3 linked regions of the Homo sapiens genome follow. The protein of the gene in region 2 purifies or fractionates together with the protein of the main gene of each other region. This does not show direct contact. Each region holds a gene or a part of one and is shown on either strand. Other genes may lie near its edges.

Region 1 (7,973 bases), on a different chromosome or scaffold from region 2:
ACAGACAGGAAAACACAGAACTCAGTTGCACCAGGCTCTACAGGCAGTAAGAAAATCAGAAGTATCCGTAGGGAAGGGCAAGAGTGCACTATTTTTCCTGCTTCTGATTTTAAGAAGGGGAACACGAGCAGGACGGCTGGTTTTCTCCCTGGCCTTGAACTGGGGGAGGAGGTCTAATCACGGTATACCCCTCTCCACTCCCCACAATTCTTAAAAGAGCTGACAGGATGGTGGGCCCCTCCAATCTCTCCCTTTTCTCCCAGATCTAAGGCTTTGGAGCTAACAGCCCCAAGTTCAAATCCCAGATCCACCAGCTCATGCACTGCATGGCCAGAGCAAAGGGCTTCTACTCAGTGGAGCTCCCCTCTCCTTTGATTTAAAATGAAGATTAAAACTCCCTCTCTCAGGTGACAAGGGAATCGATGTCTGCACCCCAAAGTGTGTATACAGTGGTAGATGCTCCTTGCGTGCCAGTTCACGCACACCCCCACTCCTGGGACCCCATAAGCCCTCCTCCCTTCTCTTGGAATGCAAAGAGAGCCGGACCACATGCCACCCACCTCCTCACGGTGGGGCCTGTGGCAGAGGGCTGAGCATGGACTGGACACTTGATGAATGCTTGATGAATGCACACTGAAGCGGAGGAAGGTGCATGGGGATGGTCGAACCCTCAGTAGAACCCAGGTCCTGGAGCCTTGAAGTTCACAGAGCTTAAAGAGTGCAGGTTTGCTGGGCACACATGGCTCATCCTCCAAGGTGCAAACGTGAAGCACTGAATCCATTCTCACCATTCCGCAGTGAGCCCAAGCCCTGAGAGTATTTCCTAGTTAAGCTGGGCCCCCTGACACCTGGGCACTCAGGGACCTGAAGTATGCCAAGGGAGCCCCAGACTAGCCAGCTTCTCAGAGCTGAGCATTTCTCTCTTTAAATATCAATGCCTGACACAGGGCCCTTCCAAGGCCAAAGGCTAGAGCTGGCCTTACCCATTTTCCTTACTTCCCTTACCTGCCCCCACAAGCCACCAATTCAAGGAGCACAAGGTTGGGAGCCATGTGTGACCTGAGACCTAAGTCTACCCTTCCCATTTAGCACCCATAAAGTCCAAGATAAGGCCCTCATCCCTGGAGCCTCATTTCCTCCTTGGTAAGACGGAAGGGTGAGGTGCAGGGAGAAAGGATTAAAAGATCAAAAACAGCAATTTCCCCAGCAAGCTCAAAATCACCGGAACCTACTGAATCACACAGGGGCAGGGGGCGGCGGTGGCACGAATCCCTATGGTTGGCCTGGGTAAGGGGAGGCTTTGTGGAACCAGAAATTGATGTGCCGACCACAGCTCTTATGGCCCAGACTTAACTGATGCTATTAGGACTGACCTTGAATTCCACCAGAGGGGCTGTCCTTGTTCAAAACTGCCTAGGTCTGCTAGCCTCAGGGCTGCCCGGCAGGGGCAAGAAGCCGGCAAACATTTGCTAGCTGGTATCAGGGACCCGGACAGGCTGGAAAACCATGTCAACCAATCAAGAGGTCCAAGACCAGTGTCCTCTTTGGGCCTAAACCCCAATATATCCCATGCTATGGGGGTCATGGCAGGCTAAGGGCCTTTCTCTCTGGGTAGACTGTCACTTTACACTGCCTTCACATGCAAGAAGAGGGGAAGAAATACCTCCTGTGGCACAGGCATCTGAATCACTATTTTGTGGATGTGGAAAACCCCTCCTGGAGAACACCCCCCATCCACTAATGCCCTATTTCTGAGCTCTAAATCATGCCAGACTCTGCTAAGGGTGTTTCACGCACTCAGTCGTCACAAGCGGAGACCTTATTTTTAGCCCCAATTTGCAGGTGGTGAAACTGAGGGCGCTCGGAGACTTGCTGAGGTCAGCCAGCCGAGCGGCGACAGGGAGTTCTGAACCCAGAGCCTTTGCCCCTAACTTCTAGAATATACCGAGCTGTTCAGTAGAAAGGGCAGAGCCAGGATTCTAATCCAGCTCCTCCCTGCATTAAAGCCCTGCTCTTTTCCCAGCCAGACACCAAGTGTGGCTGCCTCAGGCCAGGACATCCCCTGGGGCTCCACACCTCAAGGGAACCTCTGGTGGAGATCTCTTCCCCCGCAGGCTTCCAGAATGCCCCATGCAACCTAGACCATGAGGCAGCTGGACCCCACAAAGGACCCATTGTGGTGACTGCAGAAAGCCAAGGCCAGACCCCGGTGGCCCTTCTGCAGAGTCCTGCCCAAGGCGCCTCCTCCCCTTCCCATGGTGCCCCCATACCCAGCGGACAGGGCTGGGGCTGAGGGAGGGAGGGGCGGGGGCAGGCCTCCCGATCTGCCCGGCCTGGGGGAGCCTCAGGCTATAGAAACTTAAAACCCTCCAGCTGCCGGCAGGCTGCATGGGGCCCCAGGCCCCTCCGGACTCATTCCAGGTGCCCTGCCCCACCTGTCAGCTGAGGTGGGGTCCACCAAGGAGGCTCAGTAGAGGGAGGAGAGGGATGCTGGGGTGTTATGGGCTGTTCCCATCTGGGAGGAGGGAGGAAATGTTTCCTAGTGTGGGGGAGGGGAATGCAAGGTATCCGGGCAGGCTGGGGAGGGGGCTCGGCGGAGGGAAGGTGGGTGGATTTGTCTCCCGCTGCACGAGGGGGCCTCCGCGGCTCTGGCTGGCTTCGTGTGCGGCAGGGGGGGGGCTCGCCTGGGGTCCCTAGGGGCCTGCGGAGGCATGCACAGGGCGGGGAGCCGCTTTTGCATGCAGGGCGGGAGGGGTCCGCGGCGTGCCGGGGCGCTCCCTCTGCCCGCTGAGGGAACTCCCGACTGGCCGGGGTCGCCACACTCACCTCCTGAAGTCAAAGGGCATCGTGCCGCCGCCGGGGGTGGGAGCGCTGCAGGCCAGGCGGGCCGCGGCGCCGCGTGGGTCCGAGCCCGCTGCCAACGCCTCCTCCGGCCGCCCCGCCCCCGCCGGCCGCCCCCCTGACACTCGCCACTCGCCACTCGCCACTCGCCTCCCGCTGCCGGGAAGTGACGCTCCGCGCAGCCCATTGGGCGCCGCCCGCCCGGCCGCCCCTTCCGCCACCCGGTTAAAGGGGCCCGCGGGCAGGCAGGGAAGGGGCGGAGAGTCGAGGCTGTCGGAAGGGAAGGGAGTCCCCCAAAGACTCCAGTACTCATTCCTTCAAGCCTCCCACTTAGATTTCCTTCTCCATCTCTTTGGATGCCCTCGGACAAATTCTCTGCTTCTCCGAGCCCAGTTTTTTGCATTTGTAAACAGTTTCACTGAACTGTGATTGAGTTGGGGGCGGGGGGCGGGGTGATACAGACTTTGGCCGTGCACAGCGTCTAGCTCTGAGTGAGGGCCTAATACTGTGGGGGAAGGGAAGAGGTCGGCCATCCTAGGCTGTTAAGGTGGACTCACCTCTGCCCCTGCCGTGTCTCTCTGGGAAAGCCACTGGGCTTCTCAGAGCGCCCCCCCCCCGCCCCGCCCCTTTTGCATATCTGCACAAAGAGGACGATGACACCTACTTGAGGGGGTTTTCCTGGGGATCAGCTGAGAAACAGGAGACTGGCTTAGCACAGTGCCAGGCACCTGAAACTATTGAGGCTGGCAGTGGCTGTCCCTGCTTCCATCTGCCCCTGTCGTTCACTCCAGTGGGCATTCACAGAGCATCTGCTCTGAACCAGGTCCATCGAGAACATGCAGGGTTGTGGCAGAGGCAGATGGGACCTGCACTGTGACTTGGCCAACGTGGACTGTGCCGATTGTCTCCTTCTTAGAGCCTCAGTTTCCTCCTCAGGAATACAGAGCAGCTGCCTCCGTGACTGCTGGATTAGAGGAGATGGTAGTTGAGGTCACACAAGACCTGAGTAGGGGAAACTCACTCTGAACTTCCCCGAGGTTCTGTCACTGGCCCTTTCTCCAAGGTTGTGGTGGGACAGGGCTTCAAAAAACCCAGGGGAGAATGGTGAGGGCTCGGGTTCCAAAAGCAGAGTCAATGGACAGTTTCCCCCTGTGTAAATAGAGGGGAACAGCAGTGCTGGTTCCTCCGGGAGGATTCAGAAGGGACAACACTAGCACGGGGTCTGGGGTAGGGTGACGTGGTGAACCAAAGCCTTCCCCTAGAGCATATGCCGGGACCTGACCTCTGCGTTCCCTTTTCATTCATTCACTCATTCATTCATTCATTCATTCAGTGTCAGTGGTCTGACACTGTTGGGGGAGAAAAGGAAATCTCAGCCTGAACTGGAAACCTAGGGACAGCAGGGAGAGTTAAGGGATCTTGAGCAGCCACTGCTTCCAAACAGCCATTCGTTGGCCCTGTGTGGGAGGAAACATGCAATGATGGATCTTTGACCTCGAATCCTCCCTCCTCAAACTGTGGTCCACAGACCAGCCACATGGCCATCACAGGACAGACTCTTGTCCCCAGGCCAGACCTACTGAATCAAGTGTGCATTTGGGATGATATCCAAGGTCAGCAAATGCCTGGCACAGAGTAAATGCAAGACAGGGTTGACTATCATTGCTCTTTTCGAGTGGGGATAGAGCTCCCAACTTTTGGCTGGGCATGTGGGTGCTCACAGTGAAAGTTGCATTTCCCCAGCTTCCTTTGTAGCTAGATGTGGCATTGAGAAGTAAAGGGAAGTGTCTTGTGGGGCATCTGGGATAGTTGGTATGTCTGCTTTACCCTCTGTGTCCCTTTCTCCATCTGGCTGCCAGGAATGTAGGCGTCACCATCCTGGACCATAAGGTGGAGGCCACCACAGAGCAGAGCAACAAGACAAAAAGAGCCTAAGTTCCTGCCGGGCACAGTGGCTCACACCTGTAATTGCAGCACTTTGGGAGGCCGAGGTGGGCGGATCACCTGAGGTCAGGAGTTCGAGACCAGCCTGACCAACATGTGGTGAAACCCTGTCTCTACTAAAAATACAAAAATTAGCCGGGCGTGGTGCCACACGCCTGTAATCCCAGCTACTCAGGAGGCTGAGGCAGGAGAATCGCCTGAACCTGGGAGGCAGAGGTTGCAGTGAGCCCAGATCACACCACTGCCCTCCAGCCTGTGCGACAGAGTGAGACTCTGTCTCAAAAAAAAAAAAAAAAAACCTGAGTTCCTGTCTCTAAGTGGCAAAATACCTGTCCTCAAACACCTGCCCAAGAGAAACAAACATCTATCTTATTTAAGCTATTGTTATTCTGTATTTTCAGACACTTACACCTAAACCCAATGCTGATACACCTATGCAGCCTGGCTAGCTACTTGACTGCCCCAATGCTCATGGACTAGGCCAGTCCCCTATTACATAATCGCATGGTACCTTGTAGGTTTCCTTGGGAGAACTGGGCATGACGTGTGATTAGGTTATTATTAATTCGCTAGTAACTACTACCCCATCTGAGTGAAAGTTCCCTGAGAGGGGCCTGTCGGGGGGTAGGGGGCTAGGGGAGGGATAGCATTAGGAGAAATACCTAATGTAGATGACGGGTTGATGGGTACACAAACAATGATGCCATACACAAATGGCACGTGTATGCCTGTGTGACAAAACTGCACGTTCTGCACATGTATCCCAGAACCTAAAGTATAATTTAAAAAAAAAAAGGAAAGTTCCCTGAGACAAGGTGGTATCACCATCATATCCTAGCATCCAGCCAGACCCTGCACATGCTGGGGATGCACTAACTATGCGTTGAAGTTTGAATAGAGGCTTCCCAGGGAGGCAGGCCTTCCCACGGAGGCAGGCCTTACCAACAGAACAGCGGATGGGAGGGGAGGTATCAACATGGGCCTCCGCTGTGGGACTGGTGAGGTCTGTGAGCAGACCAGGCTGTCAGTCCCAGATGGTCCATCCACTCAAGAGCCAGTGGGAGATGGAGCTAAGAAAATCAGATTGTGTCTGCAGTACGTGGGAAGGCTCTGGGTCTCTTTGAGCAGGGAACAACAATACAAGTTAAGTTTTCGGATTATCAATCTTGTGGAAGCCTGTGGTAGGTAGCCAGCCTCCAGTGACCCTGATCTCCTGGTATTCCCATGCCCTTCTAGAATCACCTCCCACAATGAATAGGGCTGACCTATCCTGTGTAATCAACAGGATATTGCAGAAACGACAGTTATGACTCCTGTGGCTACGTCACAAAAGACTGAGGCTCTGCTTAGCCACTCTTGAATCACTCGTTCTGAGGGAAGCCAACTGCCTGTCCTAAAGAGGCTCAAGCACGATTATAAAGGGGCCTGGTCGGTGAGGAATGAGGCCTCCCACCAACAGCCATGTGAGTGGGCTCTCTTGGAAGTAGCGGCTCAGCCCCGGTCAGGGCTTCAAAGCTGCATCCCCAGCCCACAGCTTAACCACAGGTTCTTGAGAGACCCTGAGAAACACCCAGCTCAGCTGCTCCCGAATTCCTGATCCATAGAAACTATAAGATAATAAATGTTTGCTTTAAGCCATTAAGTTGTGGGTAATTAGTTACACAGCAGTAGATAAATAACAGAGACTCCATCCTCATTATTTTTTTTTCCTACCAGTAACTTCTCCCTGCCTTCCTCCATCTCACCCCCCGCCAGCCTGGGGAAATAGAAAACCACTTTGGACTCAGATCACTCTCTGCTGGGTGACCTGGACCAGTTGCTTAACTAGCTGGGTGTCTAGGTATGAAATGAAGGATAATAATACCTTACCTGTGGCAGGTAGCCTCTGAAATTGTCCCAATTAACCCACCTCTTGGTATTCATACCCTTGTGTAATTTCCTCCCTTCAAGTGTAGGCTGGACTTATGGACTCATTTCTAATGCACAAAATATGGCAGAAGTGATGAGCATGTTGCTTCTGAGATTAGGTTATCAAGAGATGGTGACTTCTGTCTTGGACACTCTCTTGCTATCTCTTGGATCAGTCACCCTGGATAAGCTGGCTTCTGTGTGTGGCTTCTGTGCCCTAAGGAAAAGCCCCTGTGGGTGAGTTTGCAAGTGATTCTTCTAAGGCAGGGGTGTCCAATCTTTTAGCTTCCCTGGGCCACGCTGGAAGAAGAAAAACTGTCTTAGGGGCCGGGCGTGGTGGCTTACGCCTGTAATCCCAGCACTTTGGGAGGCAGAGGCAGGTGGATCACGAGGTCAGGAGTTTGAGACCAGCCTGACCAACATGCTGAAACCCCGTCTCTACTAAAAACAAAAACAATTAGCTAGGCATGGTGGCGCATGCCTGTAATCCCAGCTACTCAGGAGGCTGAGGCAGGAGAATTGCTTGAACCTGAGAAGCAGAGGTTGCAGTGAGCAGAGATGGAGCCACTGCACTCCAGCCTGGGTGACAGAGGGAGACCCCGTCTCAAAAAAAAAAAAAAAAATAGAAAAATTGTCTTGGGCCACACATAAAATACAGTAACACGGGCTGGGTGCGGTGGCTCACGCCTGTAATCCCAGCACTTTGGGAGGCCATGGCCGAGCACCTGAGGTCAGGACTTCAAGACCAGCCTGACCAACATGGTGAAACCCCGTCTCTACTAAAAATACAAAAAATTAGCCGGGTGTAGTGGTGGGTGTCTGTAATCCCAGCTACTTGGGAGGCTGAGGCAGGAGAATGGCTTGAACCCAGGAGGCGGAGGTTGCAGTGAGCTGAGATTGCGCCATTGCACTCCAGCCTGGGCAACAAGAGCAAAACTCCATCTCAAAAAACAAACAAACAAAAAAACAGTAACACAAACAATAGCTGATGAGGAAAACAAATCACAAAAAATCTCATAATGTTTTAAGAAAGTTCAAGAATTTGTGTTGGGCTGGATTCAAAGCTGTCCTGGGATGCATTCAAAGCCATCCGGGGCCACAGGCAGCCTGCAGACCACACATTGGACAAGGTTGAGCTAAGGCCTGACAACAACCCTGTGAATGAATTTGGAAATGGATCCTTCTGCTCCAGTGGAGGCTTGACATGACCACGGCCCTGGCCCCCAGCTTGACTGCAACCTCGTGAGAGACTCTGAGCCACAGGCAGCCAGCTGAGTTGC
Region 2 (7,023 bases):
GATCAGATCCAGCAGGGTCTTAACTACATGCAATAGCATTGCACCACTTAGAAGCTCCCACTACTACAGGAGAGGAAAGAGTTAAGCCCAGGGAGAGAGCCAGAGGATGGGATGGGCGGGACTCACAGGTAATGTAGTAATCATGGTGCTTCTTGAACTCCAGGCCCATGTAGTTGGGGCTGAACTCCTGGAACTTGATGGTAAAGCGTATTTCCTGCTCTGGCCTATTGCAGGTGACCAACACGTTGGGGTCGAGAACTGTGCTACAGGCAGCTGCCTGCTCAGGCCGCACCAGGTACAGCTTGTAGTACTCATAGGGCCGCCCTGCTTCTGCTCGGGGGCAGATGATGTCCAGCTTGTCTCCAATTTTCGGATAGATCACCAAGCCCTTCCCACTCAGGAACCTGCCCAGAAGGAAGAAGATGGTCAGCCTCAGGGTTGGGGGTGGCCCCAGGCCATTCCAGAACCAGGGAAGCGGACAAGAGCCGGGCTGGGCCTACTGGGTGGAGATGGCAAGAGCAAGCCTTCTGCCCTTCCTCCATCCTCAGGCTGGGGGTGGGGAGAGAGAACCACACTACCAGGAGAGTGTGGAAGGGGTGGCCCATGGGCAAGGCTGCCAGGCTCTGACTGCTCGGCAGGGTGGAGCACTGCCTGGCTGGGGGAGCCCTTTGTCCTAATGTGGCATTTCCGCAGGGGGCTGACGTGGCCAATGGGCTGGGTACCAAGGTGTCAGGCCCATGCTACCTGGAGGTGGCAGTCTTATATACCCCCACCCCCAACAAAGATTCCTTCATGACCGCTGCTACTACCTCTCCTATACCCATACACACGTGCGCGCGCGCGCGCGCACACACACACACACACACACACACACACACACACACACACATACACACACACACAGCAAGCCCACACATGTCTTAGTCACCACTCCCCGCAGCTCCCAGCCAAAGGCTGGGGGAGCTCAATCTGTCTGGGACCCATGTCTTCTCCCCCATCCTTACTAATCTTGGTCATGATGGAAAGATAGGAACAGGCATCGCCTGGAGCAAAGGGATGATGGCCACAGTCTCTGGCCAGGTGCAGCTCTGCTCACTCCCACTGCCTATTGTCCTACTGGCAATTCATCCCACCCTCAAAATGCAAGAGCCTGAATTCCTAAACTTGATTCATCTCATTCTTAAAAAGAACAGAGGAGAAGAGAAGGGGCTCAACCAGAGACAACAGATCATAGAAGATAGGGCCTCATCTGTATCCTAACCTGTCACCTCTATGTTGCTCCTACTCCAGCTCCTGAGAGGAGATGGACAAATGCCTTTTGAGCCAGGTTCATATTCTAATCCAGAAGGCCAGGCACTGGGGGACAGCAGGGAGGGTCAGCAGCCCAGGACCACCTATCCATAGGACTCTGTCCTTGCCTAAGCACACAGAAAGAAAATGGTGCTCCATTGGCCATTTCTGAGACTGGATGGGCTGGTGCTGAGAGCAAGGCAGAACCATGTAGGAGAAAGAACACAGACTTTAGAATCAGATTCCAAAGCTAGGCCCTTACTAACTCTGTGACCTTGGATGAGCTGCCTGTTCTGAGCTTCAGTTTCTTCTCTTGTAAAGTGGGGGTGGCAAGAGCCCCTACCTTCCAATATTGTGGTGGGGAGACAAGGCAGCACATGGAGAACACCTAGCACACAATAGGCGTTCAACATGTTTGACTGCCTCTTAGAAGCAGTCTCCCAAGAGGCAGGAGGTCAGATACTAACACTAAGTACCTATGAGCTCACTCTCATATTTTGGAGGGGAAACAGGAAGAGAAGATATGGCTCCATCGTCAAGGACTTTACTGTCCAGTTTGGGTCAGAAAAGTAAATAACCCATACTCGAGTGATAGACAACACCAGGCTATCTGTAGGTATGTGTGAGGATGATGATTCAAGCAGCAAGGGCTGGAGGCAGGGAGAAGAAAGAGATAGCTCATCTGACCAGGATGGTCAGAGATGTATCCACAGGAAAGGCAGGATGAAAGTGGGTCTTAGGTGAGGAATAAGAAGTCAACACACTGAGACAGTAGACAGCAGTGGCTACAACACAAAGCCCAGGCCAGTGATTGGTCCAGCTTGGCTGGGAGTGAGAAGAGAGAAACAGAAGAAGAGGTGAAAAGTTCACCTGGGGCCAGACTGAAAGGCTTCAAGGGTCACAGCAAGCAGGGTGGGTTTCATCCCATTGGAGACAGGCTCTCAGAGCAGGAAGGACAATGGAAGGCTTCAGGCAGTGCTTAAAGAGAATGAAGCTGACAGTGTCATGCACCAGTTCACAGGCTACCACAATCATCTGAGAAAAGAGTGGTTCCATTTCCTGAGGGCCCATTACACCAAAGGTACTACAAGCAATACCGGCCTACTGGGAACTCTGGGCAAATGCCTTTGCAATGCCAAACCTGTGTCCTCATCTGAGGGAGGGAAATGATACCCAAGTAGGCGAAGAGGGAAACTGACCACATGGATGAAGTGGACGAAGAAAAGCAGCCTTTCCTCCATGTCGAGTGAGGCTCCACCAAATTGGGAGCTGCCATCTTGATGTGCAGGAGGGTAAAAGCCAGAATGAGATGGCCTCCCCACTGGTACCTAACTATAGAGGGCCCAGAAAGGAAGTAGGCATGGGATGGAAGCCTGGATAAACATTTCAGATGGAATACCCCTGTCCCATGCACCATACAAAGCCAACAAGTTTCCCCAAAGCCTCTAGAATTCTCCAGGCATTTTTTCCCTTTCCAGTGCTCACAACGGTTCCATCCAGATGGCAGGATTAGACAACTGCTCACATCTTAGAGCCAGCAGGAACCTTAGAGTCCAGGCCCTTCATGTGAGGGAATGAATGATCAGATGAATGTTCCCATTGAAAAGAGGGGTCTAAACCTACCCAGGACAATAACCCGATGGGTCTAAGAGGCCCTAAAACATTACCTGAATCCTTGTACTGTTGCATCTTAACAACACATATATATGCAGCTACATAGAGGGCACGGAAAGGGAGACAGGCCAGCTCAGCTTTCTAACCACTCGGTTCTGGCTTACTCACCAGGGAGTCCTGTCTACCCCAAGTGCAGTCTCCCATTGCCACCCAGGTTCCAGAGCCCTGGAATTGGAACAGGGCTTCTAGCTAATTGGGGTTCTACCTTGAAGCCAGAGGCATTGAGGAAACAGATGTCTACATGATGGAGGAGGGGGGAGAAGAGAGAACTATTGCCCCCAAAACCCCTCAGAGTCTCTTCAACCTCAGTGAACAGACTTCATAAATATTCATTAGTTCATTTGCATGGCAGCTGGCAGAGGGAAACTCACCTTCCCCTGAAGTGCAGAAGGGAGCGGAGCCTGATGAGACCCGCCTTCCCTGACCCTGATCCCCCATACTGGTAACCTTAGCATCTTCCCGACCACTGGGCAAACCTCGTCTTGACCTGTCAGAAGCTCAAGAGAGTGGTAACGGGCCATAAGGGATGGGTGTATAGCCAGTGAGAGTGAAGGCCAAAGCTAGGTAGAACACTAGTCATACTTTAAAGGGGGACCCTACAGTTCTCCCCTCTTACCAGATTAGGAGTAGGAGTAAGGGAAGAGGAGGAAGAGATATCCCGAAGTGAAACTCTTTATCCTCCACCTTACTTCCCCCCACCCTAGGACCAAGCCAAGCTTTTCTGTCTGGGGCCACCCCCAGACAAAGCCCTTTTCTGAAAAATAAAGGGATTGACATGGCTCAGCAGGAAGCCTGAAGCAGGTCACCATGGTAACCCCTGAGGCCTTCCCTCTCCAGCCTCAGATAGCCCTGGGACCCCAGGGCGCCACCCCAGGGAGTAAAAGGACTTGGGGGAGGCGGCCTAAGCTATTCCAGCTCTTCCCCCTCTACCCTAACCCAAGTTCTACCTTCAGCCTTTCTACCTAGCTTAGAAGCACCACGATGCCATCACTGCCACAAAGAATCCTGGGATATGAAAAGCCTGAAGGGGTTGGGGACAGTAGCCTCCAAGGCCCTGGACTGGCCAGAAACCAACTAACCAACAGCCCCCTCCTTGTTTTCTCCGGATAAGCCCTTCTCCACCCATGTGAATACAATTTACAGGGGGCAGGGAGAGCTTGCAGCTAGGAGGGTCTTGCCCAGAAAGCTGCCCACATCCCACCAGGTCTATACTTCTTTCCCTGTCACCCTGCTCTCAGGCTCTAGCAACTTGTGGTCAGAGAATGACCAAAGGGGGAGCCTGGTTCTAGGCCATGCAAGCCCAAGTCTGGTAGAAGCCTCTAGCCTCAACCTCGATTCAGTGACCCCACGACCACTGCACCTGCACCTCCCAGGGTGGCAAGACCAATGGAGGACAGACCCCAAGCCAGAGCTCAAGTCTGTTCTCATCCCAGCTAGGGTGGGGAGCCCCCAAATTAAAGGCTCCTCTTTAACTCCCCCAGCTCCACCCAGCCCCCGAGGCTGGCAGGAGCAGGCCTGGCATGTCCCAGCAGTGCCCGCCCAGGCGTGGGTGGGCAGGAACAGCAGCTGGGTCCTGGCACACACAGCTCTGTCAGAGGCAGGGAAGCCAGGAGAGTCCTGGAGGAAGTCACCCTCCCCATCTACACTGAACTATGCCCTTCCCTCTGCCCCACCTGGCTAAGGCTCGTGTCCATTATGAATTTAATACCCCCCCTCCTCGATGTCGATGTCTGCTTTCTGTGGGGTCCCTGAGAAGAGAGATTCTTAGCTCAGAGAGGAACCAAAGGTGCCACTCAGAGCTCCGCAGGGAGTGTGCCAGGCAGTGAGTTGGCTGCCTTTAGTTCAGGTCACCCAAGCAGTCAGCCCTGGAAGGTAGGCCTAGAAAAGTCAAATGAGGAAGTTGGAGCACTGCTCACCCCACACAGACAGGGCCTGAGTCACAGGGACAGATGCTTGCACACCTGCGAGGTAAGAGGGGAACTCAGGGGCAGGGAGCCAGGGCCTCTTCCCAAACCCCACCTTGAATTCCTGTCTCTCCTACATTTCAAGGCAGCAGGAATGAATGGCACACAACACAGCTCTGCCCCCATAGGCAAGTCATTGACTGGCCTTAGACAAGTCACTTCCCTTGTCCGGGCATATGCCTTCTTATCTGGAAAATGGGACCAATACCTACTTCCCAGGGTTGTTGGGAGCATTCGATGAGATCATATATGAGAATGCATTGTAAGTAGCAAGGTGCCGCCTGCCTATTAGTTAGCATGCCAAACACAGCATTATTTAGAAGTAAAAAGCTGAAGGAGCTTACATTCCTGGCTGCTAGCACCCTGACCCAAAACAATGATCGTGAAACACGCCCAAGAGGGGCTGCTATGGTCTGCGGGGTAAGGAACCCAGAATGTGGCTGGTGAGCACCCCCGTATCTCAGCTCCTCTAATAGTCACAGAGTGGACTCTCCCCCAAACCTGGTGTTCCCATGGCAACTAGCAGCCTCCTGGCTGGCCCACTCTATCTCCTTTAGTCCCTAACCCCAGAAAACAGTGATGCACCATAGTATCCAGGGCCCACGCATCCCCATTCACCTGAGCGGATGAGACAACAGAGAGCCCAAGGGAAGAAAGGGAACCCTTGATTCAGTCCCCACCCCAGCCTCACAGGTCCTTCTTGCCCTTGCCTGGCTGCCCTATGTGGGAGAGGGGAGGCAGGGGAACAGGGGACTTTAGGAGCTGCTGGATTCCCATCACTCTCAGGCTCCCACCTGTGGCCAATCAGCCACAAAGTAGAAGAGGTCAGGTCCCTAACCACCCCGGAAAAGGGCCCCCTGAGCTGGCCTCCCCAGGACTGTGAGCTAGAACAGCTGTGTGGGGCTGGGGCCAACACTTTGGCTTGGAGCAGGCAAGCATGGGTTGGGGTCTGCAGCTGCCCCCACCCATGCTGGAGTCAAGGGTCCTGGATGCCAAGCTGAACCCCCCCACCCCCACCCCCTTGTAGGGAATGTTTGTAATGTGATCTCAGGCACATTCTGACTCCCTGGAGGTGGGGGAACCTGAGTGGGGGGCAGGAAGGGGTCAGGACGGGACTGAGAGACTGAACTGCAGCAGCTGGACTTGGCTGAGGACTCAAGTGTGAGGCCTGCCGGCTGCCCCAAGTTCCCAGGGGAAGAGGCTGCGGGAGGGGTCGCCTAGGACCATTTAGATAACAGCCCCCCAACTCAGACACACACACACACACACACACACACACACGCACACACAGAGGTTCCTAAAAAAAACTCTAGCAGGACCAAACCCATCCCCCCACCTTGCGCTCATGGGGCAAATCTGACAGGAGGGGCCAAGGAGGCAGAAGCTCCTGCCACTCAGGGACTAGCATCCCAGAAGGCCCCAGCACCAATTTGGGAAAGAGGCTTGGGAGTCTTGGGCCAGCCATTCCCGCTTCCCCTCTCAGTCAGGGCTGGGGCCGGGCCGCACGCACCTTGGAACCTGGAAGCGGACCCCCAGCCCCACCACTTCTTTTATTTTGATTTTTTTTTTCCCAAGAAGGAAGCAATTAAGCAGGGTTTATAGGCACTGGGAGATTTTCTTTTTTGGGAGGGGGGTTGCCAGCTTCTGACAGGGCTGAGGAGAGAGACCAAAAGCCAGGAGAGGAAGAGGGGAAGGAAGAGAGAAAATGAGCCTGAGAGGGAGAGCACGGGCATGTGCGAGAAACAAAAGGACTTGAGAAAAAGAGGCAGAGAGTGACTAAGAGTGAGAGGGAGTGTGAGAGCAAGGCAGAGCAGGCGAGCCTAGCTGGAGAGGGGAAGTGAGCGCTGCTCGCGGAGGGTATGAGAGGGCGAACTGACACGGGCCTGAGAGGAGAACTCGGGCAGGAGGCAGAGAGGGAGGGAGACAGAGAGGGACTGTTTATTTGAAAGGCTGTGGCAGCCTGAGGGTTGGGCGCGGTGGCAGAAGCAGCCCCCAAAGCTCAAGGAGAGCTGAGGGCAGTGCCTCCTTCCTGTCCATTTGCCCCCACCACCCCGAGCCAACACATGTAGACAGTGGCTGCATTCCAGACCCCTGA
Region 3 (7,023 bases), on a different chromosome or scaffold from region 2:
CCTCTGTGAGCCTCATTTTTTTCTATCTGTGAGGTGAGTTGTAATAATGTAGAGTTCCTGTGAGGTTTAAATGTGTTCACACACATAGCTCTTACAAAGGGCCTGGCTCATAGTAAATAAATGCTCACTGTTGATGGCTCCACAGAAGACAGCCCGATGTCCTCTACATGTAGCTGTTCAATAAATATACATATGTGTTCAATAAACCTTTATTATGCTTAGTAATTTGCTAGGTGCTAGGGAAATAATCATGAAAAAGACATAGTTTACATGCTTAATGAGAGATCACATTAATACGTATTTTTGTAAGGCCAGTAACTCCTTATCTGTCTGGCAGTTCTCGCCATTCTCTGAAAGCAATCTTCAGATTGTTTAAATTTTAGGCATTGAGACTTAAGATGTAGATTGGTTAAGGATCAAGGCCTTAACCATTGGCCCTCAAAAGATTTATATGGCAGGCTGTGATGTAGGGGAAAGAGCACTGAATTAGGAGTCCGGGAATATGATTCTGTGATTCTGATTCTTGTTCTAATACTCACATGTGGTGTGGCCTGGGGCAAATTCATTTTCTTCTGTGGGCCTCATTATTTTTCTGTTGGAAATAAATAAGCTTTTGGAGAAGCCAAGTTCAAAGGTACCTATTGAGATCTGCAGATCTCAACAAGTGGGAAGTTCCAGACTGAAATGTGGTCGTGGATGACATTAATTATTTTGGGAAAGGATAATAAATTACCTTGAGTTGGCACAATAGTTCATGATGATTTCACTTAATATATTTATTACAAGAGAGGTCACTTTGGGTATGCTCTATGCCTACTAAAATATCTCCTGGCCAGGCGCGGTGGCTCACGCCTGTAATCCCAGCACTTTGGGAGGCCAAGGTGGGTAGATCATGAAGTCAGGAGTTCAAGACCAACCTGGCCAAGATGGTGAAACTCCGTCTGTATTAAAACTACAAAAATTAGTCAGGCGCAGTGGCAGGTGCCTGTAATCCCAGCTACTCGGGAGGCTGAGGCAGGAGAATAGCTTGAACCAGTGTGGCAGAGGTTGCAGTGAGCTGAGATCATGCCACTGCACTCCAGCTTGGGCGACAGAGTGAGACTCCATCTCAAAAAAAAAAAAAAAAAATCTCCTTTGGGTATATTAAATTTATGGTATCCGTTTTTTCTTTTATGTGGTCTATCACTCTCCATTTTTCTTTTTTAATCTCTGATAAATTAATCCTTCATTTTTTTACTCAATTTGTCTCTTCAAAGATATTGCAAAGAATTTAACATATTGTTTGTATTATTAGTCAACTGTTATGATTCTTTCCAGCCTCATCTCTCAGTGTTCTCTTCTGTAAACCTCACTACTCCAACCTAATTTTCTGTCACACTCCTCATCCTCTATATTCTTCCTTACTGGCCTTTATTCTGTTTCTCAGGTGTACCAAGCTGATTTCCCTGTGCTTACAACTCTCTTTGCCTAACTATTTGTATGGCCAATTCCTTCAGATTTCAGCTGAAACATAACTTTTCAGAGACCCTTCCTGACCACCCAAACTCAAGCCACCTTCTACCCATACCCACCGTTACTCCATTTTATTTTCTTTATGTATGTTTTTGTTTGTTTGCTTGCTAATTGCCTTATTAGGAGAGAGAAGAGCAGACTCCTAGTTTGTATTATTCACCATTGAATCCCCAGCACTGGCACAGTGTTAGTATATATTTGCAATAAATGAATGAGTAAAATGCCAGTATCCTATATTTTGGTCTTGCTAGATATCTCACTGTTTGCCTACACACTTTGCATTTTTCTGTTTCCAAGCCTTTATATAGTTCATGCTGTTTGGTGTTTTGAATTTGAGAGGTTAATGCTTAAGTAATGGGAAGGTATAGATCAGAGCTAGATTGTTCCTGAATGTTTTTGTGGGAGGATATAGGGAAAGAACCCTACAGTGAAATTCTGGGAACACAGGTCTGCTTTAGCTCATTCGGGTAGCCTTGGGTGTAGCCCCACTTGCTGATCCTTCAAGGCCTAACTCCAGTACTGTATGTGTAATAAAACCTGTTTTCTCAGTTAGAATGACTCTCAAAGTCTTCTCTGGATTCCTATTACCTCATGACAGCTTTGAACACATTCTGTGTATGTAAAGTTAATAAACTAGGTGGTAATAAACAGTTTCTGAGAAACCAGGACTCTTTCACTTGCAAATGACAGAAACTCAAGTTAAGAAACTTAAAAAATAACAGAAACTAATTTAAAAGAGGGGAATTCAGTAGCTCAAGAAAATAGAAAATCAAGGAGCAGAACTGGCTTCAGGCATGGCTCTATTCAGGAACCTATCTCTATCCCTATCTGTGTCTTTCGGCTTGCTTCCTTTTTGTTTTGGCTTCATTCTTAGGGAAGCTTTTCCATATGGTGGTAAAATGACCATTGGCAGCTTCAGGGTGGGTGACTTTTTTCCATTTCGGTAACTCTTACTGAAAGAACACTTCTTTTTGCTGATAATTTTACCAGATGTCCTGAGACTGATGTCCATTGATCTGGCTTGGGTTACTTTTTAATCTATGCACCACTTACTCTGTGGACAGGGGTATTAGTATTCTCAGTAGCTAAATCTGAATGGTTTGCCAACTTTTGGAGCCAAAAGATGGAAGCAGCTGCACCCAGGTCACATGAACTAAGGAGAATCTAGAACCTGCCACCAAAAGAAAGGAGATATGGGTGCTGGTCATATCCATATCCAAAACAGTAGATGTTCTTCACAGTGTGCTGGACACTGGGTGTGCAAAGCCAAATAAAACACTCTCTAGCTATCCTATAATACATAGTTTAGTTAGGAAACAGATAATTCTACTATATTTGGTTAAGTTCTGAATTTAAGTTACCTGAAAGAGATGATGTCTGGGTAGAGGATTGAAAGAACAAGTACAGTAGAGGTCATTCTTACCAGAAGATAAAGTGGAAAATGATAAGAGATGAGGCTGGAAAAGTAGGTAGGGTCTAGGTCATGGAGACCTGTTACATCATGTAAAGAGCATGATCTAGTTGATGAGGAGCCATTGAAGGAAAGAGGAATGGTCAGCCCTGGGCTTAAGACAGATCACTGGTAGCATTTTGGAAGATAGATTTAAGATAAACAGATCAGAAGCAGAGAGACCAGTCATGAAGTGGATCTGAACTCAAGTAGTGGTAATAGGGAGGAGGAAGACGGGAAGAGGATGATGAGGGGCTTGGATAAAATCAGACCATCTTGGTGATTGGTTGGAGAGGAAAAAAATCTAAGATGGCCCCTATATTTTGGCTCAGGTAACTGGTACCTGGTGGCACCTCTAAAACTTTGGGAAATAAAAGAGGTTGAAAAATTTGGGGTAAGAAGAGAAAGACAATGAGTTCAAAGTTTTTATTTGTTGTATGTGTGATGCCTGCAGAGTATTTTGTCTAGCAGACATTTGGAATAAGTTTTCAGGAGAGGTCAGGTCTAGAAATAAGGATCTAAGAGTCAACAGCAGGTTGAGGATAGTTGAAACCACTGGCATAGGATGGATGGAGAGGGAATAGGATGAGACGAGTAAAGAGTGAAGGCTAGACCTCCAAATAATATTGGCGTTTAAGAGACTGGCCAGTTAGGATCAATATATAAAAGATACTGAGGAGAAATGGTCATAAAGGTCAGAGGAGAACAGAAGAAAGTTGGGGTTACAAAAACCAAAGAAAACTAGATTCATTATCAGGAGAATGGATAAATTGTGATATATACAATCATGCATTGCTTAATGATGAGGATATGTTATGAGAACTGCATCATTAGGCAGTTTTGTCATTGGGCGAATATCAGAGAGTGTACTTACACAAACCTAGCTGATGTAGCCTGTTACACACCTAGGCTATATCGTTTAACCTATTGCTCCTGTACAAAACTGTACAGCATGTTACAGTACTGAATACTGTAGGCAGTTGCAACACAATGGTATAGAAAAGGTACAGTAAAAATATGGTATTACAGTCTTACAGGACCACCATTATATATGTGGTCTGCTGTTGACCCAAACATCATTATGTGGTGCATGACTGTATATAAAATGAAATACTACACAGCAGTTAATATGAATGAACTAATACATGCAGCAACATGGATAAATCTAACAGACATTATGTTGTGCTTAAGCCAGACACAAATTAGAATGAACTTATATTTCTATTTTTATGCATTTTAAGATTAGGAAAAATTATTTATAGTGAGCAGAAGAGGGTTTGTCTTTGGGCAGGAGGAGGGGGACATGGTTTGAATAGTATTGGCTAGGAAGGGACATGAAGGGACCTTCTAGGGATGAGGAAATATTCTATATCTTGATCACGGTTTCGTAGGCATATACACATAAAAACATTTCTTAAGCCATACTCTGAAGATTTGTGCACTTTATGTAAATTATACCTTGGTTTTTTAAAAAGCTGATTAGAGGCCGGGCGCAGTGGCTCATGCCTGTAATCCCAGCACTTTGGGAGGCTGAGGCAGGGGGATCACCTGAGGTCAGGAGTTCGAGACCAGCTTGGTCAACCTGGCGAAACCCCGTCTCTACTAAAAATACAAAAATTAGCTGGGCGTGGTGGTGGGCGCCTGTAATCCCAGCTACTCGGGAGGCTAAGGCAGGAGAATCGCTTGGACCCAGGAGGCAGAGGTTGCAGTGAGCCAAGATTGTGCCATTGCACTCCAGCCTGGGCAACAAGAGCGAAATTCCATCTCAAAAAAAAAAAAAAAATACTACCAATTAGAGAATTTTGAAAAGGAATGATGGACCACAGTGATAAGTATTGCTGAGACTAGTAGGATAAGGACTGAAAAGCTAGATGGTACGTTCAGGTAAGAACAGGAGCCCTTACTTCTAGGATGCTATTGTGTTCCTGGTAGGTGCACAGTAATTTTGGTAAACTGAATTGAATTGTTGATGGCCAATATTTTTCTTATTTAGGCAAGAAATACCGCCCACGAATGGATCAGGAAGTCTCTGACCAAGCCATTAGCAGAGAATGAAGAAGGAGAAAAACAGTCGGAAGCAGAAAATACTGAGCAAGTCAACAAAAATTCAATAGAGGTAGCCAAAGCAACTAAGCCTTTTTTGTTTGTTTTAGTAGATTTGAAATGTGTCACAATCAGGGACCCAGGCTCCTATTTTTACACTGCTGTCCGTAATTTCAACCTTGTGATCTAGGATTGTAGCATCTTAGATCCAGACTATAAGATTAAAGGAGGAGTGAAGAAAAAAAGAGAGAAAGGATGCGCGTGTGTTTTGTCATGAGGAAGGTTCCCAGAAACTGCTGCCTGACACTTGTTATCTAAATCATTTGGCCAAAACTTAGTTACTTCGTCACACCTGACTTCAGGGGAGCCCAGCTGTAAAATTATATCACTACTGTGGAAGAAGAAGACACTCTTTATTGGAAGGCAACTATTAGTCTCTGCTACAAATCCTGTAGTATGAGAGAAGTAAGGTGGTATCTTTCCACCAAATGTTTTGTTTTGCTATGCTTTGTTTTGTTTTTCCATCCAGGATATCCATGCGTTTGCAATCCGGAGCCTGGCTGAACTGACTGCCTGCTCAATTGAACTATTCCACAAAACAGCTGCATTGGTTCTGCATGGCAGGAAGCAGGAAGTGACAGCCATAGAAAGGAGCCAAACTCTTTCCCAGTAAGTGTAATGAGAATTCCTCTAAATGATGCAAATTGCAGGAGTTTTCTTGGCCTGTTTCCAAAGTTTTATAAACGTCTCTCTCAAGAAACCATTCACGTCACACCCATCCACATATTAGATGGTTTGTTCATTTTGGTTGTTTTTTTCTTTTCATTGAACCATGATAAATCAATATTATAAATATGCCCTTTTTATTAACCAACTCATGCTCTGAAGACTATTTCTTTACAGATAAGTTTTAATAGGAATGGAATTTGGTATAAGTGAAAACAGAGAAGAGTTCTAAGAACCTCAGTTCTTAATAATAGTTATTATTGAGTGCTAATTTTATACCATTCCAAGTGCCATGCTAAGGGATTTGCATGTATAATTTCTAATTTTTATACCTCCAAAAGTAAGTAATTAGTCCAGTTTTAATCATGAGGAAATGCAAACTGGAGGAGTTAAGTAATCTGTCTGTGCTGTATGGCCTGGGATTTAGCCCCAGGTCTGACTGAGTGTCCTGAACCCATTCTTTTTTTCTCATTTTATTGCTGATTTGTACAAAAATTTTTCAAAAATAGTATAGATAATCATAGGTAGGGAAGAAAAAGCCCAGTAGTTTCTAAGCAAATGTCCTGATTAAAATAATGAGAATTTTCATTGGAAACAAATGTATAAGAGTGCCCATTATTAGAACTGGGAGGGGCTGTCAGTCTTCTGCAGACTTCCTCTTTACTTGCACCATCACCATCCCACTACAGCACCCCATAATAGGGGGCTAATTTGTCTTCTTGAACTTCCTTAAGGATGAGAGACTCACAACCCTAAAAGGAGCCTGTTCTGCGGAAAAGAGGCTATTTCTGCTACTTGGAATGTTCTTTGAAATGGGGTTCACTCCCTCTCTGAATTCAAGTCTACTCAAATGCCACCTTTTTAGAAAAGCCTTCCTTCACCACAAAGTCTAAAATAGCAACTTCCACCATTCTCTGTCCTTTTACTCTGCTTTATTGTCTTAGCTTATATCACCAAGTAGGACTTACATGTATATGAATATATATGTGTGTATATGTATACATATGTGTGTATGTGTATATATGTATATGTATATAGTCTCCCCCTTAATTTAGCAAGTAAGTTGAAATCCATGAAAACTGGGACTTTTCTTGTTCACTGATATGTTCCCATTGCTTGAAAGACTTTAAATAAAATCTGGCACACACAAGACTTTAGGTAACTATTATTAAAGATGGACTAATCACTTACTTTTGGAGTTGTTGTAAAAATTAGAAATGATACATGTAAATCCCTTAGCATGGTGCCTGGCATAAAATTAGCACCCAGTAACTAATAACTAATAACTAATA

The links. The genes of interacting proteins can lie anywhere in the genome.
Region 1: the proteins of EFNB1 (region 2) and ERGIC1 purify together in Homo sapiens (affinity purification with mass spectrometry; 3 studies listed by BioGRID and IntAct, with this or other methods). This does not show direct contact.
Region 3: the proteins of EFNB1 (region 2) and FAM114A2 purify together in Homo sapiens (co-immunoprecipitation; 2 studies listed by BioGRID and IntAct, with this or other methods). This does not show direct contact.

The regions. Positions count from the first base shown.
Region 1 is NC_000005.10:172,829,287-172,837,259, reverse strand, and holds the start of ERGIC1 (endoplasmic reticulum-Golgi intermediate compartment protein 1), read right to left. Parts: upstream 3,010-7,973; 5' UTR 2,847-3,009; coding exon 2,827-2,846; intron 1-2,826. UniProt on the Homo sapiens protein: Possible role in transport between endoplasmic reticulum and Golgi.
Region 2 is NC_000023.11:68,831,998-68,839,020, reverse strand, and holds part of EFNB1 (ephrin-B1 precursor), read right to left. Parts: intron 405-7,023; coding exon 127-404; intron 1-126. UniProt on the Homo sapiens protein: Cell surface transmembrane ligand for Eph receptors, a family of receptor tyrosine kinases which are crucial for migration, repulsion and adhesion during neuronal, vascular and epithelial development.
Region 3 is NC_000005.10:154,000,902-154,007,924, reverse strand, and holds part of FAM114A2 (protein FAM114A2), read left to right. Parts: intron 1-4,955; coding exon 4,956-5,078; intron 5,079-5,534; coding exon 5,535-5,674; intron 5,675-7,023.